Linked DNA regions of Homo sapiens. The protein of the gene in region 6 interacts with the protein of the main gene of each other region in a biochemical or structural test. Each region holds a gene or a part of one and is shown on either strand. Other genes may lie near its edges. The genes, in order: ZNF239, RNF123, TOR1AIP1, NARF, FBXO7, LMNA and SMURF2.

Region 1 (4,200 bases), on a different chromosome or scaffold from region 6:
AAAGTACTGGGATTACAGGTGTGAGCCACCATGTCTGGCCTCAACTCATCTTTAAATCCCCAGCAACTACCACAATTGACTTGGAATCTGAAAGATAAATATAAATTCACATTCAATTTAAATGAATAATAATACAACTAAAAGAAAACATAAAGATGGTCAAGCCCAAGACCCTCAGTTTACAGAGAAAAAAACCACAGTTCATAAGGGCGAAGTGACTTACCCAATGTCACAGAGGAAAAGCAGGGTTAACTAAGACTCCCGCCTTTCAGCAGACCTAAGGACAATGTGTGGTACATAGAAAACACACAATGCTTGGAATGAAGTCCTTCCTTTAAATTAAAAAAGTTGTTGTGTAACACACACCAGAATCTCAAAATTTACTAAACTGGCAATCCCCAGTTGCAGCGGCAGTGAATACTTAATCATTAGGGAGCAGGCAGAAGCGAAGGAAGGAAAATGTATTGATTCTACTAAGGTTAATCTCCCTTGAAGTCCTCAATTACTTTTCAGGGCACAGAGAAGCCATGCTCTCAGTACCTCAAGTCAGCTTACTGTCCTCTAAACAGATTTTTTCTAAGAGCTCATGTGTGTGAGGGCTGTATTTGCCAAGCAAAAAGATGGCCTTTGCTGGTAGTGTTAAAAAACATTTTTTTTCCCTTAAAACGCAGTCTGATATTTTATTCAAACAACTTCTGATGTGATGACCTGTTTAGTTAATGGAGAAAGAACAGCCTGAAGGAAGAAAACACGGGGTTTATTTCTGGCCTTCTGCTCTCTGAAACAAAGGACAAGGCACTTTCCTTCGGCTCTCTCAGAGTTAGCCGAGTTAGAGCTCTCCACCATAAAACGCCAGGACAGGGCAAAGAGGGGGCCGACCATCTCAAACACCATGGGATTCTAAGTGGGGGCTGACCATCTCAAATACCCTGGGAGTCTAAGGGTTAATTTTGAGGTAACCTCCTACAGATGGTTTTATGGGGACAACTGAAAACTCTCTTTAAAAAAGTACGACTTGGTAATTTAAAATTTACTGGAACAGTTAAATATGTAGACATGCTAGTGAAAGAGAACAAATCAACCTGAGTATAAAGGATGAATAACTCATTTTACCTACCCTAGAGACACTTATAGTGTATAGAGAGATATTTCACAATAAACCTTTGGATGTACAAAGATCAACAGAATAAAAAAGGAGTGAAACTCTCCTTTCACTAGGTCTGGAAGAGAGAAGGAAGCTTAGTTCTTAAAAAACACCACAGAGAGTTCTGATGCATAGCCTAGTTGAAAAGCATTTCTAGAGTGATTTTGTAACCACTGTGCTGCCATTTAACGAATTTCCTCGTTTTTGACTCATAGTTAATAAATTATCACTATTAATATGCATTTTTTTGTGTACAGGTAATATAATATGTTCATCAAGATGGTAAGCTCCTTGAAGAAAAGCACCGTGGTTTATCATTCTATCTGTTTTGCTGAGACCACTTAGCACTGGGATGAGTATGGAATAGCTTGGAATGACTTTCAATGTGAGTGAAATGTCTGGCAGGAAAAGGCAGGCTTTGAGAGGCTCCCCAGGAGGGCACAGCCCACTGCTCTGAGGAGTGGAATAAATTCTTGGAGGCAGGATGGGCCAGTGAAAACTCTCTGTGCAGACCCTGGTGACATCATCTGCTAGCTACATGTCCTTAGTATCTTAATGTCCCTACATCCATAGCTATAAAATACCGTACTGGGGGCCTGACAATAAAGAAAACAACACATGGCACAGGGACATTTCAGGGAGATGGCATTTTAGGAGAAATGGAACGCCAACTCACCCGGACCCTGGTCATTTCTTACTCCCAGAGGGGATGGATTCCTGGAAAGGCAGAGTTAGGGAAAGAGAAAAAGCCATGAAAATCAAGTCCAGCAAGACTGCGGGGAAAAAGTTACTCCGCTCCTGCCTCTGACGCTTCTTCAGTCACTTCCACCCACACTCCCTCCATCAGGTGAGAGGTGAAGCATTTTCTGTCACCACCTTCATCTCTCTCCACAGGGCTTTCGATTAAACAAGCCAAGTTTTCCCCCCAAAACCAAGAGGCTAGGTAAATTCCGCAGCCGCCGGCAGCTCGAAGCCGTGCCCATTTCCTCTGACTTTCCCGATCTCTGTCCTAAAGTTCTAGTTAAGAGGAGAAGCTTCTCGGGATGGATTTCGGTTGCCCAAGACGCCTTCCCCGACCTCATTCTCAGGAGCCTGGCTCGTTCCTGCGGTGCGGGGGCTCAGATGCAAGCTCTTTTCAGCGAAGGCAGTGCTGCGGACAGAAACCTCAGTCTCTTACAGGAGCCCCCGTCCGTCGCCTAACGTCCACCGAAAACCCCCCTGCAATAACGCCCGTCACAGGCGAGGAAAAGGCCGGCGTGGCCAACCACGAAGCCCCCAGCCGGCCCAGGCCAGAGCTCGGCCAGGAGGGAGGAGGGGCCATCGGAGGCGCGGCCGCTCAGCTGCAGGGCCCCACAGGCTTCGGTGTGGCCGCAGCCCGGCCCCGGGGGCGCAGCAGCTCGGAAATGCGGCGCCGGGACACACGTGCCGCCGCGGGCCGCGCCTCCGCTGGTCGCGTGCCCTACCATCGCCGCCCTCCCGGCTTCCGCAGCTCGGCGGCCCAGCGCCTTACCCGCGGCACACCCATTTCCTGACCCCTGAACGCCTCTGCCAGCGGCTGGGGAAGCCCGGCCAGTCTCACCTCCCACGTGGAACCCCACGCCTGCAGGGGCCAGATTCCGGATGCTGACCGCTCGCGCGCCTAGGGCCCCGAAATACAAGTCCCAGCAAGCCGCGGGCGAACCACGCCCACTTCCGGCGCGGGCCCCTGAACTCTGCGCTGTGCGGAGCGGGATTCTTGGGCGGAGGGGACCATCTTTGAGTCAGCGACGCGTGTATTCAAGTCCTCCTCCTCGTTTTTTATTACAAACAAATAAGAATTATTTTAGGAATACCTGTTAAGGTGATTTTCATTTGTTAAAATACTATTGGGGGAAAAGGATGTAAATACCCATAATTTCATCTTTACCTTTCAAAACATTCTGAAGTGAATATTTGCCATTCGGCATCTTCCATCTCACCTCTGAAGTTCATCCATTTAACAGATATTAATTGAGAGCCAACTGTGTACCAGGAGCTGTTCAAGATGCTTGCACAAAAGTCACTGCCCTATTCTAGTTGGGGAAACAAGCAATCCATAAATATAGTAAATATATGGCGTCGTGTGTGTCATGAGGTGGTACTGAAAGCATAGAGCTGGGCGGGGTGTGGCGAGGTGCGTTTGTGGGTGTGTAGGACTGGAGGTGTACTTTGCAATTTTAAATAGGGGATCTTGGAACAAACACAGGAGGTGAGGGAATTAGACAAGTGGCTCCCAGCAGTCAGAACTCTCCTAAACGCACACAAGGGTTGTTGATACCAGGATTTTACGTTTATTTCACTTCTCACCGAGTGACACAGAGCTACCCATTTGGTCTTTTCCCAATTCCTTTCTTTCAGATTTATTTTGGAGAGGAAAGAGATGTTGCCTGGACCTCTCTTCTACATCCTCCCCCTTCCTTGGTGTATTAGTTTCCAATTGCTGTCACAACAAATTAACACAAACTTAGTAGTATAACAAACATGTATTCTCTTAAACTTCTGGAGGTGCCAAGTCTGAAATCAAGTTTTACTGGGCTTTATAAAGTCAGTGTTGGTGGGGCTAGTTCCTCCTGGAGGTTCTAGATGAGAATATTTCTTTGCCTTTTCCAGTTCCCAGTGACTATTTGCATTCCTTGGCTTATGGCTCGCTCCTTTATCTTCAAAGTGCATGACTGCAACCTCTGCCTTCATCATCACATCACATGCTCAGGCACTGGCTCCTCGTGGGTCCTTCTAATAACGACTGTTGTGATTACATCAGGCCCAGCTGGCTAATCTGGGATAATCTCTTGACGTCAAGATCCTTAATTTAATCACATTTCAAAAAAAATCCCTCTTGCCATAGAAATTAACATCCACAGCTTCTGGGGGTTAGGACATGGACATATTTGGGGGACTATTATTTTCAGCCTGCGATGCTTGGAGAGGCCCACGTCCCCTTCGGTCTCCTCCTCAGAGATGCTGTCTTACCTTTTGCCTGGGGAACACAAAATGTCTCCCTTGGACCTTACTCCTCTCCTCATTCTTCATTGGAAAAC
Region 2 (3,500 bases), on a different chromosome or scaffold from region 6:
GGTGGGTGCTGGGGGGCCCTGTGTTTGAGTCCCCAAGGGTCAGTGGGAGCCTTACCTGCCCTGGATTGGGGGATATCCCACAGGACTGGGGCTGGGCCTCTCTGCTTCTCCTGAGTGAACGGCTGCCATGAGTACCCCCATCACCCCAAGTTATGCAGCTGCTGGCTCTGACCTGAAATGGCAGGGGTGGAGAAGAGGTAGGGGAGGTCTGTTTCTTGGTCCAGGAGACAGTTTCTCTGTCTGCCTGGATGGGTGAGTGGCCAAAGCCAGAATTCCCAGGCTGTGCTAGGCCAGATTGGAGGGGAGGGCTGTGGGGAGGGTCTTCCTACTGGGCCGTGACCACTGGCCTAGCCTCCTCAATTCCTCGCAGAGGCCTACATCCCGCCCCAGGTCTTCTATAATGGCAAGGTGGACTACTTTGACCTGCAGCGCCTGGGGGGCCTCCTCTCGCACCTGCGGAAGACCCTCAAAGGTGTGTACAGGCCTGTGGGCCGGGAGCAGTTCTGGGGCCAGGTGGGGGACTGTCCCTGAGCCTGCTCTGCTGTGGATGCTGAGCCATCCTATGGCCACCAGAGGGTGCCCAAGTCTTTCCACCCACTCAGGCAGGGAGACACTGATCTGCCTGCCCTACATCTGGGCAGCTTCTCTTTCCCGCCAGCACCCACGCCATAGGGGTCGGGCGTGCCTGGCAGGGGACCAGGGATCTTGGTGAGGTGTGGATGGGGCGTGCAGGTGCTGCCGGAGCTGCCTTCAGGGATGAGCACAAGCTGCCCCGGTGCAGGGCTGAGGGCACAGCGAGAGCAAGGCCCTGAGCCGGGCACAAGGGTGGGTCTGTGCTGTCAGAACCTCTCTCTGGCTGCCGCAGTGTATACGCCGGAGTGCAGGGGCTGAGAGACAGGGAGCCCAGGTGTCCCCACACAGGAGATAAGGGCCTGCCCAGGTAGGTAGGGGAGGGCACAGGTGGAGGAGAGGAGTCAGGATGACCCCAGGCTTCCTGCCAGAGGTTGTGTGGATGGGGTGCCATCAGGGAGAGGGGCTGCAGGAGGTGGTGGAGATGAGAAATTCTGTTTGGACACAGCGCGTTTAGCGGGGAGCAAGGCCTGGGCGGGGGGCAGCGAAGGCGGGGTCAGTTGTCAGCACGGTGGTGGGGATGAGCCTGGGATGAGGCTTGGCTCCCACTGGGAGTGCCCAGAATGAAGCAGCCCTGGCATCTCCTTTTGTTTATGGAGTAGTCAGAGAGTGGGGGAGGCCCTGGAGAGCAGGAAGTCCTGGGAAACAAAGCCAGGGACCAGCAGGAAGGGCATGATGGGCTTACATCTATGTAGAATAAAGAAAGTCAATTTGAAAATAAATGAAAAAGAAGGGTGTGATGGGGAAGGCCTCCTGTTACTGAGTGGCAGCTAGACGGGGCCCTTGAGATGCAGAGTGAAGGCTGGGTGGAGGAGGCGGAGGGGCGAGGGGCAGATACGGTGCTAAACCGGGCTCTGCAAGGCCTCCTGCCCAGTGTGCTGGGCTCTCTCACCGTCCTGGGCACTTCCACTGTGGCCCCTTGCGCCACCACTGGCCTGAGAACCCTCCTGCTCTTCCTCCCAGATGACCTTGCTTCCAAAGCCAACATTGTGATCGACCCACTGGAGCTCCAGTCAACCGCCATGGATGACCTAGATGAGGATGAGGAGCCAGCCCCAGCTATGGCCCAGGTGCCGCAGTGGGGGCAGGCGGTGGGATTTGTGTTGGGCTTATCCTGTATCTTATGGGCAGGGGTCTCATCCAGGGCCACTTCCCGCTCCATGCAGGCAAAGGGTTTCTCACTGGGCTGGTGCCTTGCTGTGGGTGGAGGCATGGACCCTCCCTCACAATTCTGCAGCCCCGTGGGCCAAGGGAACCCTGAGCCAGCCCTGGTCCTGGCCGCCTTTCTTCACTGCAGCGCCCCATGCAGGCCCTGGCTGTTGGGGGGCCACTGCCCCTGCCCCGGCCCGGCTGGCTCAGTTCTCCAACTTTGGGCCGAGCCAACCGCTTCCTCAGCACAGCGGCTGTGAGCCTCATGACCCCACGGCGGCCTCTGAGCACCTCGGAGAAAGTGAAGGTCCGCACGCTGAGCGTGGAGCAGAGGACCCGTGAGGACAGTAGGTGCTTGGTGGGGTCAGGCAGGTCCCCGAAGGACCCTTCCACAGTGTACAGTCCCCGATCCGGGCAAAGCCAAAATACACCCCATGCCCTCCCAGCCCTGTGGCCTGGCAGCATCCCAGGAGTGCAGGAAGCACACTCCGAGGGCAGGAGATCAATGCCGCAGAAATAGGTCCTGGCACCGCAGGCCTTGCCCTGCACTCCACCCCTACCCCCATGCCCCCATGGGCTCCCCGCGGGTCCCTCCTTGGGCACAGGAATGGGAGAGATGATTTCCTCTCCTGCTGTGAGGCAGGCTCAGGAGAGCCGGGATGGCCCTACCCTTGACCCTTCCCTCCCCAACTCCCCAGTTGAAGGCAGCCACTGGAATGAGGGCTTGCTGCTGGGGCGGCCCCCCGAGGAGCCTGAGCAGCCCCTCACCGAGAACTCGCTGCTGGAAGTCCTGGATGGGGCGGTCATGATGTACAACCTCAGCGTACACCAGCAGCTGGGCAAGGTCGTGCACTCTTGGACCCCGCATTGGGTGGCGGGTGTTGTGCGTGTTTGGTTGTGTGTGTATTCCTGTGTGCACATGGGCCCGCAGGGCTGCCTGTTCAAGACCGTGCATGGGAGCACATGCCTCAGCGAGGCTGGTTTCTGCTCCTGCTGCCTCAGTCTGACCTGCTGACTGTTGTGGGAATGGGACCGCCCTGGGCCTAAGGTTGGGACCTTGGCAGGGCTGGGGTCCAGACTGGGTCTGAAGAAGCCTGGATGAAGTGCCCAAGGGGCACTCTGGACATGTGGTCCCATGCTGTGTAGATGGTGGGTGTCTCCGATGATGTCAATGAATACGCTATGGCTCTGAGGGACACAGAGGACAAGCTCCGCCGGTGCCCCAAGAGGGTAAGGCCCACATAGTCTTGGTGAGGGGCAGCTTGCTTACTCGTACAGGTAACCACAGATGAAGTCTGGTTCTGGGGGCTGCCCTGGCAGTTCTCATCCCCACTCTAGCCCTGGCCATAGCACGCCAGTGAGAGTGGGGCTGGCAGCAAGGCCTGGCACCCATCACCAGTGTGGCCTGTGCCTAGGTGCCCCCCACCCCCTGGGCCCAATAAGTGCTGAAGCACACCCACTCTCCTCATCAATTATTCATTGACCCTGAGTGCTTCCTCGGCCACTTGCAGAGTCAGCAGGAAGCAGGGCCTGGCTCCACTGCACCCTCCGGAGCCCTCTGCTGTAGCTGCCCTAGCCCAGGAAGGTGGGGCCCAGTGTGTCCAGGCTGAGCTTCCCTGACAGCCCCCACCCACCCCGACCTGTCAGCAGATCCCTGGGTCTGGCAGCTGGGGGAGCAGCGGTTCTGGCATCAGGTCCCTGGGTGCTCTGGCCAGCGGCTC
Region 3 (3,500 bases), about 24 Mb from region 6:
TTGCAGTGAGCCGAGATCACGCCACTGCACTCCAGCCTGGGTGACAGAGAGAGATTCCATCTCAAAAAAAAAAAAAAAAAAAAAGAAAAGGATGCAATATAAATGAACATCTTCTACGTGTTATAATAGCTAGCTGTCCCTTTAGATTAATTTCACTGATGCCTTTTGTGGTATGCAAGTTAACACTGGTAAAATTTAGTTTGTGACTCATCCCTAGTTACTATTGGCAATAATAATAGGATTAATTTATATTTATCTAGTGCTTTTCGGTTTATAAAGTACTTTCTCATATTCTACTTCATTTATTCAGTTGATAGTAACAATAATACTTTTACATCTTTTACTTATTGACTGTTTCAGGCTATTAATTTTAGTAGGGACCTTTTAGAGCAGCAATTCTCAAGGCGTGGTCTGTGGGGTACCTCAAGACCCTATTTTGTGGGGAGGGGGGTCCATGAAGTTAAAGCTATTCTTCTAACACTAAGATGTTATTTGACTTTCACCTTGTGTTGACATTTGCACTGATGACGCAAAAGCTATGGTGAGAAAAACTTCTGATGCCTTAGCATGAGTTACAGGGCAGTGGCACCAAACTGTACGAGTGTAGTCATTGTTATTTTTCACTGCCATGCATTCAAGATTTAACAAAGGGACATTCTTTTACTTAAGAATGTCCTTTATGAAGCAGTTAATTATTTATCTTATTAAATCTGAATCCTTGAGTACATATGTCAATATTCTTTCTGAACAAATGGAAGGTATGCACAAAGCACTTCTGCTGCATCATACAGTACCATGGTTGTCTCAAGGAAAAGAATTTTGTGCAAATGAATTACAAGGCGAATTAGCACATTTTTCATGGAATACTATTTTTTACTTGAAAGAACAAGTAACAAACTACAGTCAGACTTGTGTATTTGGCAGATATTTGCTTTCAAGTGAAAATTAGGATTTTAGAATCCTAAATCTGCCACCATGAGCTTGACAACTCCCAATATTGTACTTTAACACTTTCTTTTTTTTTTCTGAGATGGAGTCTCGCTCTGTGGCCCAGGATGACATGAAGTGGTGCGATCTTGGCTCACTGCAACCTCTGCCTCCCAGGTTCAAGTGATTCTCCTGCCTCAGCCTCCTAAGTAGCTGGGATTACAGGTGCGTGCCACCATTCCCAGCTAATGTTTTTGTATTTCTAGTAGAGACAGGGTTTTGCCATGTTGGCCAGGCTGGTCTTGAACTCCTGACCTCAGGTGATCCATCCGCCTGGGCCTCCCAAAATGTTGGGATTACAGGCATGGGCCACGAACCCCACCCTTTAACACTTTTTTAAAGTCTTGAGATTGGCAGTGATGTTAACAAATGTGATATTTTTTATTACATTCCTAATGTGTCAATGTTTGGAAAATCTGCATTCCTCAGTGAACCAATGTTTTCCAAATGACCAGTGCATGATACTCCATTCAAAGTATAAGAAAGACCAATGACTTTTAATGTAATAGAGTACTAAAAGCTCAGTAAGATGGTTTTAGATATCCTATTTCAAGTAACATTTAAGAAACTACCACTTGTTGAGTTTTGGAGAGTTCAAAAAAGAATAGCCACAATTATCTGAAGAGGCTATTAAAATTTTTCATATCTGTATAAAAGCTGGATTTTTTGTAGATACTTCAACAAAAATAATATATTGTAACAGACTGCATACAGAAGCATATATGATAATCCAAATCCATTTTTTAAAGCTAGGCATTAAAGAGATTAGAAAAAATGCAAAGCAATCTGATCTGTTACTCTTCTTGCTAAATTATTTTAAAATAAATTAATACATATTTTAAAAAATGTTTCAACTTTAATTTCCTGGTACATATGGATAGACATAACCCATATTTTCAACAAAAAGCTCTTTGAGGTTCTTAATAACTTTACTAGTGTAAAGCGGTACCAAGAACAAAAAATTTCAGAATCATCATTAATCTATTTTCTTTTTTTTTTTTTTTTGAGACAGAGTCTCGCTCTGTTGCCAGGCTGGAGTGCAGTGGCACAATCTCGGCTCACTGCAACCTCCGCTTCCTGGGTTCAAGTGATTCTCCTGCCTCAGCCTCCTGAGTAGGTGGGACAACAGGCGTGTGCCACCACGCCCAGCTAATTTTTGTATTTTTAGTAGAGATGGGGTTTCACCATGTTGGCCAGGATGGTTTCGATCTCTTGATCTCATGATCCGCCTGCCTTGGCCTCCCAAAGTGCTGAGATTACAGGCATGAGCCACCACGCTCAGCCCATTAAGTTATTTTCTTAGTACTCTTTCAGGACAATAAGACTTGGAGAACTAAAGAAACTTGCCACAAGGCTGTAAAGGAGGTAAGTGGTCCAATCTAGTTCAAATACAGGTTTGCAGACTCCGAAAGCCATTGTAATCCCATAAAGTCATGCTCTGGCTAACTTTCTTTCAATTCAGCATGGTTTTCTCAGTTAACAGTATTAGTAGCTTTACTTATTTTAGCTATTATTTTTGGTCTTATAGACAGTTAAGTGAAGAGCAATACCAGATGTTGTCTCATAAAGTTTGTCTATAAAGAATTTCACTGCTAGTAGAATATATACTTTTTCCTCTCAAGTGCTTAAAATGTGATTCTTCAAATAGCATCGAGTCATACTGCTGTCAAAAAACATTTTTAAACAATTATGGAATACCAATTTTACAGAAATATTTAATAAAAACTGAATACATAAACTTACGTCGGCTGGAGGTTGATGGTGACTGGTTTCCAAGCTCTGATTTCAGAATGCTGTCATCTAATGGTGAGAGTAATAAAATAAGACTATCAACTTATGCTTCATAATTTGAGTATTTATTTCTAGTAGACAAAGAAGATACAAATTCCACCAGGAAAAAAAGAAGACAGAGATCAGCCAGAAGCAGAAGAAAAAGTAGAATATCTGAGTGCCGATTAGACTGAGAGCTCCTTGAAACACATGACCTATTTCTTTCATAGCTTTTCACAGCATATGGTGGGGTCTAGTACAAAGCACACAATAATTAGTTTTGAGAGAAAGTTTGGAAGTATTTGACCCATTAAGTATCTAATGGGATTGGTGAAACTTCCGGGATAAAAAGGACAAAGAAACTAAGCACACCATAATAAAATGAAACATATTATACCATCTGAAAAACTGCCATATATTGAACTCTTGCCTGGTGAAGATGCTGTAAAGAGGGGGAAAATAAGGACAAAATGTGGATTACAGACTACTGAGCTGTCTGGATAAGGTGTTTTAATATAAAAATCTTAATCCTCACTATTTTCTACCTCAAACTGATTCAGTATTTCCTCTGGGGATTCTGACCATTTCAAATACTAGTAGTATTTTAAAATCACATTTAAAAACTTCTCATCATTTCTGTTAATAGACAAGTAATAAAGTAATTCTGTTTTAGGCTTGTGGTTAAACAATAGAGCTCAAAAATAATTTTCTCTCAACTCTGTCAAATTTCTACTTTCATCTAA
Region 4 (3,500 bases), on a different chromosome or scaffold from region 6:
CAGCATCTCTGGGCAAGGTCCGGGGCCTCATTCTCAGCAGGGTGGGCAGCATTTCTACTCTACCCCGAATGGGCCCAGGAAAACCACCAGATGCCACAGAAAAGGTTAAGAAGAAAGAAAAAGGTTGTAAGAGGAAGGGAGGAATAGAGACGGGCGTTGGTGAGAAACAGCACTGCTGATGTTTCCTGAAGCCACAGCTTCCTTTTTGCTCACCTGGGGGGCCGTGACCACGCTGGACAGATGGGGAACCTCCCCTTCCTGGGCCCCTGTGCCATGGTCCTCCCTCACCTGCCCTTCCTGCCCTCCAGAGAGGTCAGCTTACCTGCTGTCTGGCGAAATAATCCTTCACCAAAGAGCCCATGACCTGCTGGGGGGACTTGGCGGTGCAGAGGTGGGCAGTGATGGGGCGACCCAGCACCCGCTCGGCGTATCGGACCCAGCCTGGGGAGAGAAGGGATCCACGGTCAGCTCCTTACTGCTTCCTCTGGTCTTCCTGTAACGCACCAGGGAATGCTGAGCTCGAGTCCCTGCCGCCCCAGGGTGAAGCCAGAACACCTTTTCCCCAGGCCTTACCAGGAGCTCGTGCTGGACCCAAAACCCGTCCTCGGTGGCCCGGCTGTGGGTCATGGGAACCTGCAGGCCTGGAGGCTACTGGGAAATGGGAGCATCCCTGCAAGGCCGACAGACAAGTAAGAGTCGGAGTAACAGGTCCCCCAAAAAGGTGAAGGGGAACAAGCACTGAAAGGCAGCAGGAGCAGCGGCCCAGGCTGCACCGTGCAAAATCGCCTGGCCAGCTACAGCGTCCTTACAGCCAGGACACGCAGCTACCGCTCAGGGGAGAGCAGCCACATGCTTGCCCAACTTCTCTCACCGGCGAGAAACTAACAGCCCAACAACTGCACGCTTTTTAAAATATAAGAAATCTATACTCCTCAAGTCGTAATAAATAGCAACATCTGTAGTGTCACTACATGCCCGCACAATCTGAGCACTTTCCTGAGGTTGAGTGCTGCTGTGGTTTCCAGGGTGAACACAAGTCACCACTGCAGCTGACCACACAACAGCAATTCCACCGCAGGAGCCCTGCCTACTCCTTTCCCGCAGGCGTACAGCCCAGTCAGAGTGCATAAGAACATCACAGAACTTGCTGACCTGGCAACTGATTTTAGGACCTGACCCCACAGACACTTGCACACCTGTGTACATGAGAGCCACGCAACCTGCCCTCAAACAGGGGCTGGGTAGATACCTTGGGAGACTCTACTCCTGGCGGGGAAGGTCGCCCAGAGGGTGAGAGGCAGCTCATGTCCCACAGTCAGACATGATAATCCCATTTAACAATCAAAGTTTCACCTATAAAGACGCCCGTGTGTGCTCAGGAAACACCCACAGAGACACAGAAGCAGCCACAGAGAGAAATGCCCCAGGGCCGGGCGCAGTAGCTCACGCCTGTAATCCCAACACTTTGGGACTGTGAGGCAGGCGGATCACTTGAGGGCAGGATTTCAAGACCAGCCTAGGCAACACGGTGAGACTCTGTCTCTAGAAAAATAAAAAAATCATCCAGGCGTGGTGGTGCACACCTGTAGTCCTAGCTACTTGGGAGACTGAGGCAGGAGGATGGCTTTGAGCCCAGGAGTTCGAGGCTGGAGTCAGCTATGATTGCATCACTGCTCTCCAAGCTTGGATGACAGAGCAAGACTCTGTGTTGTTTTTTTGGTTGTTTTTGTTTTTTTTTTGAGACAGTCTTGCTCTGTCACCCAGGCTGGAGTGCAGTCACACGATCTTGGCTCACTGTAACCTCTGGCTCCCGGGTTCAAGCGATTCTTCTGCCTCAGCCTCCCAAGCAGCTGGGACTACAAGTGTGCGCCACCGTGTGTGGCCAATTTTTGTATTTTTAGTAGAGACAGGGTTTCACCATGTTGGTCAGGCTGGTCTCGAACTCTTGACCTCAGGAGATCCTCCCGCCTCGGCCTCCCAAAATGCTGGGATTACAGGCGTGAGCCACCCTGCCTGGCCTGACTCTGTCTTAAAAAAAATAAATAAATATAAAAATTAGCTGGTGGCGCACGCCTGTGGTCCCAGCTACTTGGAAGGCTAAGATGGGAGGATCACTTGAGCCCAAGAGGTTGAAGCTCTCGTGAGCCATGATTGAGCTGCCGCACTCCAGCGTGGGCAACAAAGTAAGATCCTGCTTAAAAAACTGTTGGCTGGGTGGAGTGGCTCACACCTCTAATCCCAGCACACTTTGGGAGGCCGAGGCGGGTGGATCACCTGAGGTCGGGAGTTCTATTCCAGCCTGGCCAACATGGTGAAACCCTGTCTCTACTGAAAATATAAAAATTAGCTGGGCGTGGTGGCAGGCGCCTCTAATCCCAGCTACTTGGGAGGCTGAGGCAGGAGAATGGCTTGAACCTGGGAGGTGGGGGTTGCAGTGAGCTGAGATCTCGCTATTGCACTCTAGCCTGAGCAACAAGAGCGAAACTCCGTCTCAAAAACGCCAGGTGTGGTGGCTCATGCCTGTAATCCCAGCACTTTGGGAGTCCAAGGAAGGCAGATCATCGAGGTCAGGAGATCAAGGCCAGCCTGACCAACAAAGTGAAACCGTGTCTCTATTACAAATACAAAAATTAGCCAGGCGTGGTGGTGCATGCCTCTAATCCTAGCTACTCAGGAGGCTGAGGCAGCAGAATCGCTTGAACCCAGGAGGCAGAGGAGCCGAGATCACGCCACTGCACTCCAGCCTGGGCAACAGAGCGAGACTCCATCTCAAAACAAACAAACAAACAAAAAAGTGTTAGCTGGGCACAGTGGCTCACTGCTGTAATCCCAGCACTTTGGGAGGCCGAGGCAGGCGGATCACCTGAGGTCAGGAGTTTGAGACTGGCCTGGCCAACATGGTGCAACCCCGTCTCTACTAAAAATACAAAAATTAGCCGGGCATGGTGGCAAGTGCCTGTAATCCCAGCACTTTGGGAGACTGAGGCGGGCGATCACCTGAGGTCAGGAGTTTGAGACCAGCCTGACCAAAATGGTAAAACCCTGTCTCTACTACAGATACAAAAATTAGCTGGGCATGGTGGCATGCACCTGCAATCCCAACTTCTCAGGAGGCTGAGTTGGGAGAATCACTTGAACCTGGGGGATGGAGGTTGCAGTGGGCCAAGATCACACCAATGCACTCCAGCCTGGGTGACAGAGCGAGACTCTGTCTCAATAAATAAATAAATAAAATAAAAAATAAAAAAAAGTCTTGACCAGGATGGAGCTTATGTTGAGAAATAAAGTTTATACTTTTTATCTTTTAATTCTGTTCTTCCACAAACTTTTTGCAGTCTCCTTACATTTGTTGATTTCCTTATGAGAGGTCCTACTGGGATGGAACCTTCTCAAGTCACTGAAGGAACTAACTCTGCTGATGTGAATCCTGAGCAGATTGCTGATTTGTATAGAAACGGTGATCCCTCCGCCTGTGGCAGTGAACACAATGCTAGGTAGGG
Region 5 (3,500 bases), on a different chromosome or scaffold from region 6:
ACTCGAGATCCTTATATTAGCTTCTCATTTTTTTGCAGTTAAAAAAATTAAAATCTCAGTGTCTTACAGTGAAATTTACTTCTCACTCGTGTACATGTTGTGTGTGGGTTTGCTTTGGCTGAAGGAGTTGTCTTTATCCAGGACATGCTCCTCTTGTAGTAGAAGGAAAGGAGTGCCAGTGGCCCAATTATGTGTTGGTTCAACGCTTTTGCCCAGAAATTATATATGTCACTTCCACTCACGTTTTGTCAGAAAAAATAAGACAAAAATGGCCAAGCCTGATGGTGGTGGGATGGGGAAGTATAATTATGCGTAGGAAGTGATTGAGAACCATAATACAATCTACCACAATTCTCCAACTAGTAGGTAGTTTGACTTATATGAATAGATAGTGGCTTTTATTTGCTCTCTATATGTAGAGAAATAAGTAAAACGTTTTTGGTGTCAAGTTGAATGGTGGCATGTCTATTATTACAGTAGTCTTCTCTGTAGTTGGTGATAAGGGAAAGGGAGTAATGCCAATTGAAAAACATGTAGATATGTCTGTTGGATTTTGATTATTTTTGCTAGTGGAGAATAGTATCACAAATATTTTGAAGGTGCTAATAACCAAAACATAATTTTCATTGAACTTGGGACATATTATTTTTCCTTTCCTTTCTTGGCTTTGTTTCTGAATTTATCTATCTCTTTTTAGCCTGCTAGACTTCAGATAATAGTAATTTGCTAACACTTGAGTGCTTATGCTTGGTGTGCCAAACATTGTTCTAAGCACTTAATATGTGTTAATACATTTACTTCTCACAACTCATTGAAGTAGGTGGAATGTAATATTAATCCATTTTACAGATGAAATTAAGATAGCATTTAAATAACTTGTCCAAAGGCACACAGTTAATAACTGGCATGGAAACAGATATAAAAGCCAGTGAATTATTCATTTTCTGTAGTTGAATGAAGAAATTTTGTTGTATTGAATAATGTTTGAGACAGAAGAGACCATTGGCTAGTATTTAGCAATTATCATAGTTATTTGATTTATATTAAAAAGCATTTGTCTTTCCACTAAAACATAAAGGGAATAAGGGCCTAGAGTTATATGAGTTAATAGTAATTATAGTCAAGCTGGGGTTAAAAATTTGTTGTAGATGATGCATACTTGGGGATAATTAAGAGTACCATCTAATTTTCTGTCACTTTAGAAAGGAACAAGTGGCAACTTTGTTGACTATGTGGAGAAAGCCAGATGTTCTTTACTCAGTAATACCTGTTACTTCTCTTTTTTTCCTTTTAGCACTGAACCTACCAGATGTATTTGGGTTGGTCGTCCTCCCATTGGAACTGAAACTACGGATCTTCCGACTTCTGGATGTTCGTTCCGTCTTGTCTTTGTCTGCGGTTTGTCGTGACCTCTTTACTGCTTCAAATGACCCACTCCTGTGGAGGTTTTTATATCTGCGTGATTTTCGAGGTGATTTCCGTAATGACATATTCACAAGAAAGGGCTCTTATTGTCTTGATTACTCAGCTCACCAAAAGTTTTTAGTTGTAGGATTTTTCTGTTGCAAATGATTACAATAAATAGCCTTAAAGAGACTGACTCTAAGCTTCATATACCTGTGCCTGTGTCCCTAAAACTCTCTCATTTTTGTGTTTTGCACAACACAAATCACTCATTAGACTAAGAAGATTATTTCAGGATAGAGAAATGGAAGTAAAACAGGCTTATTTTCTCACTAGAGACCATAGTCAGTATCTGACGTAGAAACGAGCTGGCATTTCTGAACTGCTTTCATGGTTGAGACCAATGTGTAAGTTAGGAGAGTTTTGTTGACCTGTTCCAAGTTGCTAGGGTAGCTTTATTTCTGTATGGTCACATTATGGTGACCTGGTAATTATTTTGGCAGTGATGATGGTAGAACTTGTGCATCAGGATTTCCTGCTACAAGGCCAAAAGCCTGATTGTGGAACTTTTTTTTCTGCTACCACCATTTTACTACATATTAGTGTTTTCAGAATGTTTGACCCTGGGGTGGGTCATGAAATCCATTTAATGGGTCATGTTACAAAAAAACAAAACCCACAATGGAAAAATCCATATTTATTTTATAAATAGTATTCCTATTTATAAAATAGGAGTAAACTTCTATTTCAATTATGTATAGGTAGGTGTATACTGTGTTGCAATGTAAAATTTTTATGTGGTTCACATAAATGTTTGAATGATACTGCTATATGTGATGTTAACACATACCACCTTAGTAACTGTAAAAATGTGGTGGGTAGATAGCTCCCTTAAAAAAAAAAAAAAAAAAAAGAATATCATGTAGAGTCATTTGGATTGCTAAAATTTTTTTTTCTTTTAAAATTTCAAAATGTGAGAAGTGTAAATGACCTGGTTTGTTCCTTTTCTTCTTCTTTGATTCCTGAGGTCCTCTTTCTGCTTTATTTATGCCCCTGAATTTGACATTTAAAATGTTATTTTGTCACAATTGGCAGCAAGAAAGCATCATCTCAAAAAATAATTCAATTTTATTTATTTGTGTATTTTTGAGACAGGGTCTAGTTGTGTTGCCCTGGAGTGCAGTGGCGCAGTCATAGCTCACTGCCACCCCCAACTCCTGGGCTCAAGTGATCCTCCCTCCTCAGCCTCATAAGTAGCTGAGAACTGTAGGCATGCGCCCCCACACCTGGCCAATTTTTGTTTGTTTGTTTGTTTGTTTTTAGTGGAGACAAAGTCTTGCAGTGTTGCTCAGGCTGGTCTCCAACTCAAAAAAGAATTGAAAATATAGTAAAAAAAGAAAAGACAGAATGACTGATGTATATGGAAGCACCGAGAAAAAGCAGAGTATGATATAAATACTTATAAAAGCAACAAATACCCTTTCACTTGTATATTCAAGTTTAGGATTAAAGCACAATTATTCTTTAATTTTTAGATTGTGGCCCACAAGCTCATTTGTAAGCTGTTCAGATTTTTCTGTAGATAAAATGTTACGGAGCTAGAGCTTTTATAAATCTTACTTCCATGCTAATGTAGTAACTTGTAGAGAAGATATCATCTTTTATTCAAACTCTTTTGTATACTTAAAGTTGAATGGGTTTCTCTTTCCTCATTTCACATATTTCAAATAAATAAGTACATTAAAAAATACTTAGTTATGGTCATGCTTCTGATAGCCGAGTCATTCAGGACATCGTTGGGAGAAAGTAGTGTAACCAGAATATGGATGAAAGCCTAAGTCAGCTTGACCTCCAGTAATGAACGTGGGCTGTAACACAGAAGCTCAGAGGTTGTTGCCCAGTTTGGTGTAACGTGAGATGTTGGATTAGAAGCAGGTGACACACCTAAATGAGATTAGGGGGAGAAGAGGTAGTGTAGGACCAGTTAATGCAGGAAGAGAGTAGCCACATGTTCCTCCATAGTCCCTGAGGAATCACACTGCATTGAATTACCATGTAGCACAGAGCAGCAATGATCACCCTTAACCATCAATAAA
Region 6 (3,500 bases):
GATTGTCCCCGAAGCTGCCACCCCCACTGCCCCCCACACTGCGGTAGCTGCGAGTGACCGTGACACTGGAGGCAGAAGAGCCAGAGGAGATGGGTCCGCCCACCTGGGCTCCTGAGCCGCTGGCAGATGCCTTGTCGGCAGGCTGCCCGCAGGTCCCGCACAGCACGGTGCGCGAGCGCAGGTTGTACTCAGCGGGGTCCCCCGAGCTGCTGCAGTGGGAGCCCTGGGAAGGGAGACAAGGCTCAGGCGGGACGGCGAGTCTGGGACTGACCACTCAGGCCCAACCAGGCTCCAGGCTCCTGCAGGCTCCCAGCCGCCAGGCAGGAAGGTGTGGTTCTGTGCCCAAGGAGCCAGCGGGCAATGGGGGTTTGGGAGGCTAGGGGCCCGGAGGAGGAGAGGGAAGACATAAAAGGGGAGAAGGCTCAGGAAGACTTGGGGACAGAGAACCAGAGCAGTGACTCTGACTCTGTTCTAGCTACTCTGAGCTTAAGAGGAAAAGAAGAGAGAACGGGAGCAAGCTTGTAGGGCAGCAGGCATGCACTATTAATTGGAGTGGAGGGGCGGTCAGGAATGAGAGAGAACATTCTTGCAGGAAAAATGAGGGAAATGAGAGGATATGCATGCAACAAGAATGGGGGAGAGAGGCAGGGCGGGCATGCCCCACGTCTGTCCTCCCCTCCCTTTCCCAGAAGACAAATCCAGACCCTTGTCCACTGCTCCCACAGGAATATTCCATGGCATCAGAAAGTTCCCACTCCCTTCCTTACCAGAGTAGGGCACCCAGACACCTGGGTTCCCTGTTCAAGGTATAGGGAGGAGAGAGAAGAAAGGCCAGGCCAGCGAGTAAAGTTCCAAAACATTCTTTAATGAAAAGATTTTTGGCACGGGGAGGCTGGGGAGAGGCTGCCCCCAGGCCTGGCTGGGTGGCCCCAGTGCAGGCTCGGCCTCAGCGGCGGCTACCACTCACGTGGTGGTGATGGAGCAGGTCATCTCCATCCTCATCCTCGTCGTCCTCAACCACAGTCACTGAGCGCACCAGCTTGCGCATGGCCACTTCCTGGTGGGGACATGGAACCAGGTCCAAGGGTCAGGGCCAGGGAAGGGTTGTACAGCATGTCTACCCCAGTGACCACCTGCAACTTTTCTTGTGGCCTGCCCTTTGTCCGGCCTGCTGCTTACTCTGTCCTCTGTGGTGATGGAGCTAAGGAACTCATTTCCACCCCAGAGGGACACTGTCAAGCTCTCCGGGTAGGAGTATGGCTCTGCCTTTAACAATCCTCACTGTCTAACTTCCACCCCTTGTGCTGTTGAGGAAGCATCTTTTGGTTTGCCTACTGGGTGGAGAAGTCTGGAGCCTGCAACAGAGAGCTCTAGAAAGGGGCCCTGAATTGGCAAACTTGGGTTGGGGGCAGCTGGCTCCGATGTTGGCCATCAGGGGGAGCCTCGTCCAGCAAGCAGCCAGGCCCAGGCCTACTTACTTCCCCAGTGGAGTTGATGAGAGCCGTACGCAGGCTGTTCCCGCAGCCCCAGGTGTTCTGTGCCTTCCACACCAGGTCGGTAGGGGGGCTGTGGGTGGCCCCAGCTCCTGCAGCCCAGATCTGGAGAGGAGAAAAGGACACTTACCCCAGCGCTCCCATCGCCACCCAAGGCCTCCCCAGAGTCCCAAGCGCCCTGCCACTCACCGTCACCACCTGCCCAGCCTTCAGGGTGAACTTTGGTGGGAACCGGTAAGTCAGCAAGGGATCATCTCCATTCTGGCGCTTGATCTGCCAATTGCCCATGGACTGGTCCTGCCGGGAAGATAGGGAAGAGGAAGGTCGGGGAGGCTCACCCAGGCTCTTGGGTGTATCTTGCTCAAAGGCCCAGCCCTCTGCCTGCCTGCAATTGAGGCCTCTCCTTCCATCTACACACACCCCTGTCACTGCCCTTCCCCCGGGGATAATAGCCATGATCTGTGGACACATACGCAGCACCAGGCACACGGATACCTTATCTTTCATCTTCCTGACAACTCAAAGACTTAGGGATCAGTATTCATCCCCATTTTACAGATGAGGAAACTGATGCTCTGAGAGGTTAAATAACCTGCTCAAGGTCTCACAGCCAAAGAGTCCAGGAGCCAGGCCTGGAACCAGAGTGTGGAGGAGATATACAGGCTCACCCTGGTCCACCCTCTGAGGGCAAGGATGTTCCTCTCTCCACATGCCATCCTTCTGTCTTGCCACTCTCTCCCTGATGCAGCTGTATCCCCTTAGACCCTGAGCAGGAGCCTACCTCATTGGACTTGTTGCGCAGCCGGACAAACTTGCCCTCCTCATCCACCTCCTCCACGGCCACGCGCCCGCTAGTGCGTGCGTGCTGTGAGAAGCTGCTGCGGCTCTCAGTGGACTCCAGTTTGCGCTTTTTGGTGACGCTGCCCCCACCCTGTGTCTGGGATGAGTGAGAGGAAGCACGGCCACGGCTGCGCTGCGAGGTAGGGCTGGGGGACAGGCGTAGCCTGGGGAGAGGGAGACCAAGTGGGGGTCTAGTCAAGGCCAGTTGCCGGCCAGAGGACACTGCCAGCACCTCCCCGACGTCTCCCCAGCCCACCTCTCCTCCTCGCCCTCCAAGAGCTTGCGGTAGGCGTGGATCTCCATGTCCAGGGCCAGCTTGATGTCCAGAAGCTCCTGGTACTCGTCCAGCTGCTGCTGCATCCTTGCCCGCATCTCGGCCATCTCCCGCTCCTTTTCCGCCAGCAGCCGCCGGCTGGTGTCCCGCTCACGGGCCAGTGAGTCCTCCAGGTCTCGAAGCTTCGCCTCCTTGGCTGCCAGCTGAAGGGGGGTGGGAGGGTTTGGTGAGCTCCCAAGGGCCCTAAGTATGGGGAAGGAGGGACGTGGGTCGGTGTAGGAGACACCTGGCTACTCTCTCCAGGATCTGCAATCAGAGCTTCCCCAGAGCCCTCATCAGAGCCAGCTCTGAACATCACAAGCTCTAAACATAGTCTTGGCTGGCAACTGGGAAGTCCTTCCCCTTGTCTAACTGAAACCTCTCGTTCTGAGGCTAGACTTTTTCTCCTGTCACAAATAGCACAGCCAACTAGAAAAATACTGATGCTTTTAACACCTCACATTGCAGAGTCCTGTGGCAACTCTGAGTTAGGGAGATTAAGAACAGCCTCCATTTTCGAATGGGAAAACCAAAGCCCTGAGAAGTGAAGGTGAGGTAAGAGTGTACAGAAACAGCACACAGGCCATCTGACTCCACATCCTGCGACCCTTCTCTGTGGTTGTGGGGACACTTTTCATCCCTCTCCTCCTCAGGAACCTCCCACCCCCACCCCCACCCCCAACCCTGGGCTTCCAGCCTGCATCCGGCCCAGACTCTAGGCCCCTGGAGAGAGGGGTGAGGTGGGGTATCACCTGCTTCTGGAGCTGGCTGAGCTGGGCAGAGAGGCTGTCGATGCGGATGCGCGACTGCTGCAGCTCCTCGTGGGCAGCCCCCACCAGGTTGCTGTTCCTCTC
Region 7 (3,500 bases), on a different chromosome or scaffold from region 6:
GGTGTTTTAGTTATTTTCTCGATGATCTTGTCTATCAAATGCTTTCTTGCAAGCTTAGTGTAAAACTAATTCAGAGTAGGCTCTTACCCAAATAAATTTCAAAATGGTAGATTAATGAGGTTTTACTTAACTAAATCAGTAACCACTAAGTTAGGGAATAGACATATATTGGAAGAATGTACATATAAGTCACGAAATCTGTTTAAAACAAGAAAGTACAGGATAGAAAAATAAATTAAAAATTTTCACAATATAAGAGAGACTGCTCACAGCTGGGCATGGTGGCTCAAGCCTATAATCCTAGCACTTTGGGAGGCCAAGGCAGGCGGATCACTTGAGCTCAGGAGTTTGAGACCACCCTGGGAAACATGGCAAAACCCTGTCTCTACCAAAAAAAACAAAAAAATTAGCCAGGGGTGCTGGTGCATGCTTGTAGTCTCAGCTACTTGAGGGGCTGAAGGATCATTTGAGCCCAGGAGGTCAAGGCTGCAGTGAGCCATGATTGCACCACTGCACCCCAGCCTGGGTGACAGAGTGAGACCCTGTCTCAGAAAAAAAAAAAGAGAGAGAGAGACAGATTGTTCACTCACAGAAATTCCAAAGCATGAAAGGCCTTCAAAAGCATGAAAGACTTTTCCTGTGAATAAGAATTCTCAAGCATAGAACCATGAAACTTAGAAAGCACCAGAAATATGCTTTCCTCTAAAACTAAGTAACAAAATAATTCCCAATCCTTCCTTGTTACACTAGTGATGTTATAATACTAATGCACTAACCTCTAACTCCTTCTCATCAAATGTCTTCAGCAGATGTTGTGGAATTACTTCATTAAATCCTTTCTGCAGAGCCAAGAATTGAGCCTCAATGCCTCGTAAAAATCTCCAGTTCACATAGAGCCTGTAAACATTCGGCAGGATTTCGTATAATCACATGTATTTTCAGATCTGGTAATTATTATTATAAATCTCTACTTTAGCAACACCGCATCTTACAAGCATCTAACATTAACGGTTTAGCCTCAAGTCTAACAATAAATCTCAGACTAATGGGGATAAATGAACCCTGAGGTGTGACACAGTTCAATGTTGATGAAAAGTGGTAAACTACTAACAAAAGCAGCATCAGCAGAGCAACCCTTCAAATCAGAGAAGCTCCCAGGAAACAGGACGTCTACTAGAGCTGAGTCTTGATGAAATTTCTTTCTAAACTTACAGCATACATGCCAATAACTAGAATAAAGAGCTCTTTCACTCAAAAATGACTTATTTTTCTGATTTTACTTGCAAATGTAATTTGAATGTGTTGGGTGTTTTGTTTCTATTTGAGGGAGGCCTACGGGAGAAGAGGAGGTAGAGAATCCTCATACCAAAAATGAGAAGAATAAATAGTAAAAGCCAATAGCAAGCACTTTTTGATTAAATAATCATTGTTCTCTAGAGGATATAAAAATTCTGGAAGATGTAATTTTACCAATAAAAAAATGCACTAAACTACATCTATTGTGTGAATGTACGATTTATAAGTGAATTGTTTTTATTTATCTACCCAAGAAAACTTCTCCATCTCATGCATCACAGAACTTACTCATCTGTCAAATTTGTTAACATTTCCAAATTTGGAGAAATGGTTCTCTACTTTAAGAAATAAGTTACTTAACATTATATCCTTTGGAGGACCGTATTTTTGTTTGTTGGGTTAAGGGGACAGCAAAACTGTGTAACTGTAAAAGTTTTTCTTTGAATTTTTAATCTAATAACTGTAGTTGGCAAGGGATTATTACGTGCTGTAAACACGACTGAACCCTGAAGAGTGGGATCCAGGGACTGAGTAGGACACACGAGGTCTTGAAAAGGAGACACTGCTAAGACTTAGGAAATTCTCATTTGTTCTTTTTTTATTATTTTTAATTTATATTAGGTGGAGTCTCGTTCTGTCACCCAGGCTGGAATACAGTGGTGCGATCTCAGCTCACTGCAACCTCCACCTCCCAGGTTCAAGCGGTTCTCCTGCCTCGGGCTCCAAAGTAGCTGGGATTACAGGTGCCTGCCAACACGCTTAGCTAATTTTTGTATTTTTAGTAGAGACAAGGTTTCACAATGTTGGCTAGGCTGGTCTTGAGCTCCTGACCTCAGGTGATCCACCCACCTTGGCCTCCCAAAATGCTGGGAATACAGGCATGAGCCACTGCACCCAGCCTGTTCTTTCATTTTTTTTAAGTAGAAACGTAATACATACTTTTTACGTATATAACAAAAAAATCAAACATTAACTATGGAGACAGTAAAATATGAAAGTCCATTCTTTTACCCTCTTTCTCCTTCCTATTTCCAGTCGCATCATCTCCACTCCCTCATCCTAGGCAAAAACTTTATTTGGTTGCAGCCTCCTGAACATCTTCAGTATAATCATAAAAAAACAGCCAGGCACGGTGGCTTACACCTGTAATCCCAGCACTTTGGGAGGCTGAGGCAAGCAGATCACGAGGTCAGGAGTTTGAGACCAGCCTGGCCAATATGGTGAAACCCCATCTCTGCTAATAATAAAAAAAAGTTGCCAGGTGTGGTTGTGCGTACCTGTACTCCCAGCTACTCGGGAGGCTGAGGCAGGAGAATCACTTGAACCTGGGAGGCAGAGGTGCAGTGAGCCAAGATCTTGCCACTGCACTCCAGCCTGAGCAACAGAGCGAGACTCCACCTCAAAAAAACCCAAAAAAACAAAACAAAAAACAAAAAAAAAACCATGGATTTTGTTCCTACATAATTCTTCTAAGACTTACTTTTAAAATTTGACAGCTTATGCACTTTTAAATATCCACATAATATTCTGCTGAATGTATAATATAATCATTCTTCTCTAAAACCATTTTAGTAGTGTAACTTTTTTTCACAAGTAGCATTTAATTGACCGTCTTTCCCCGTATTCGTTCAGTTACATGTGTGTTTCTGCAGAAGAGCCCTAAACACAGAGCTGCTAGTTGAAGGGCACATGCTGCTGGTATCAAACTGCTTTCCAGAAAAGCTATGCCAGTGTTCACTCCAATCAAGTGGACCTCATATTTAAACTAGGAAACATTTTAGTAAGATTTGGGAACATAATCTATACACAGAAAGTATATCATGCAAGTTTCTGTGTACATAAAGTTCAAGTTCAAACTCCCAAAACTGATTACCATAGTTCTATATTTAGAGGACTTTTTATTTCTCATAAGCCAAATTAGCCCAATACATAAAAATTCCTCAATTTTTACTTTATGAAATCTGAAAAACATTTATTTACATTTATCCCTAAACTCACAATGTGCTCATTTATAAACAGGCTAAGTGTTAGTAAGATAAAGCACAAAAGCCCTTCTGAATTGCCACCTGTGATAGCTACACCACATGTGGCCCCAGTGCCCACATCTCCTGGTATTCACACATTTGTACAGCTCCTCCTCCATGATGAAACTGGGCTGGCTGTCTCAGTTTAACCAGAAGTAGACAGCAGAAGTCATGTTGGCC

The links.
Region 1: the proteins of LMNA (region 6) and ZNF239 form a complex in vitro, tested with the Homo sapiens proteins (one study listed by BioGRID).
Region 2: of the proteins of LMNA (region 6) and RNF123, one has a biochemical effect on the other in vitro, tested with the Homo sapiens proteins (one study listed by BioGRID).
Region 3: the proteins of LMNA (region 6) and TOR1AIP1 form a complex in vitro, tested with the Homo sapiens proteins (one study listed by BioGRID).
Region 4: the proteins of LMNA (region 6) and NARF form a complex in vitro, tested with the Homo sapiens proteins (one study listed by BioGRID).
Region 5: of the proteins of LMNA (region 6) and FBXO7, one has a biochemical effect on the other in vitro, tested with the Homo sapiens proteins (one large-scale study listed by BioGRID).
Region 7: the proteins of LMNA (region 6) and SMURF2 form a complex in vitro, tested with the Homo sapiens proteins (one study listed by BioGRID).

Annotation. Positions count from the first base shown.
Region 1 is NC_000010.11:43,571,817-43,576,016, forward strand, and holds the start of ZNF239 (zinc finger protein 239), read right to left. Parts: upstream 2,801-4,200; 5' UTR 2,724-2,800; exon of another isoform or gene 2,227-2,723; coding exon of another isoform or gene 2,222-2,226; exon of another isoform or gene 1,862-2,221; coding exon of another isoform or gene 1,821-1,861; exon of another isoform or gene 1-1,820. UniProt on the Homo sapiens protein: May be involved in transcriptional regulation.
Region 2 is NC_000003.12:49,703,057-49,706,556, forward strand, and holds part of RNF123 (E3 ubiquitin-protein ligase RNF123), read left to right. Parts: intron 1-370; coding exon 371-472; intron 473-1,593; coding exon 1,594-1,700; intron 1,701-1,927; coding exon 1,928-2,126; exon of another isoform or gene 2,127-2,130; intron 2,131-2,477; coding exon 2,478-2,623; intron 2,624-2,925; coding exon 2,926-3,009; intron 3,010-3,500. UniProt on the Homo sapiens protein: Catalytic subunit of the KPC complex that acts as E3 ubiquitin-protein ligase. Promotes the ubiquitination and proteasome-mediated degradation of CDKN1B which is the cyclin-dependent kinase inhibitor at the G0-G1 transition of the cell cycle.
Region 3 is NC_000001.11:179,913,285-179,916,784, reverse strand, and holds part of TOR1AIP1 (torsin-1A-interacting protein 1), read right to left. Parts: intron 2,788-3,500; coding exon 2,731-2,787; intron 1-2,730. UniProt on the Homo sapiens protein: Required for nuclear membrane integrity. Induces TOR1A and TOR1B ATPase activity and is required for their location on the nuclear membrane. Binds to A- and B-type lamins. Possible role in membrane attachment and assembly of the nuclear lamina.
Region 4 is NC_000017.11:82,475,741-82,479,240, reverse strand, and holds part of NARF (nuclear prelamin A recognition factor), read right to left. Parts: intron 442-3,500; coding exon 323-441; intron 1-322.
Region 5 is NC_000022.11:32,491,811-32,495,310, forward strand, and holds part of FBXO7 (F-box only protein 7), read left to right. Parts: intron 1-1,294; coding exon 1,295-1,471; intron 1,472-3,500. UniProt on the Homo sapiens protein: Substrate recognition component of a SCF (SKP1-CUL1-F-box protein) E3 ubiquitin-protein ligase complex which mediates the ubiquitination and subsequent proteasomal degradation of target proteins and plays a role in several biological processes such as cell cycle, cell proliferation, or maintenance of chromosome stability.
Region 6 is NC_000001.11:156,135,211-156,138,710, reverse strand, and holds part of LMNA (lamin), read right to left. Parts: coding exon 3,399-3,500; intron 2,851-3,398; coding exon of another isoform or gene 2,811-2,850; coding exon 2,590-2,810; intron 2,498-2,589; coding exon 2,275-2,497; intron 1,791-2,274; coding exon 1,683-1,790; intron 1,599-1,682; coding exon 1,479-1,598; intron 1,058-1,478; coding exon 968-1,057; coding exon of another isoform or gene 947-967; exon of another isoform or gene 845-946; intron 224-844; coding exon 1-223.
Region 7 is NC_000017.11:64,550,808-64,554,307, forward strand, and holds part of SMURF2 (E3 ubiquitin-protein ligase SMURF2), read right to left. Parts: intron 898-3,500; coding exon 777-897; intron 1-776. UniProt on the Homo sapiens protein: E3 ubiquitin-protein ligase which accepts ubiquitin from an E2 ubiquitin-conjugating enzyme in the form of a thioester and then directly transfers the ubiquitin to targeted substrates.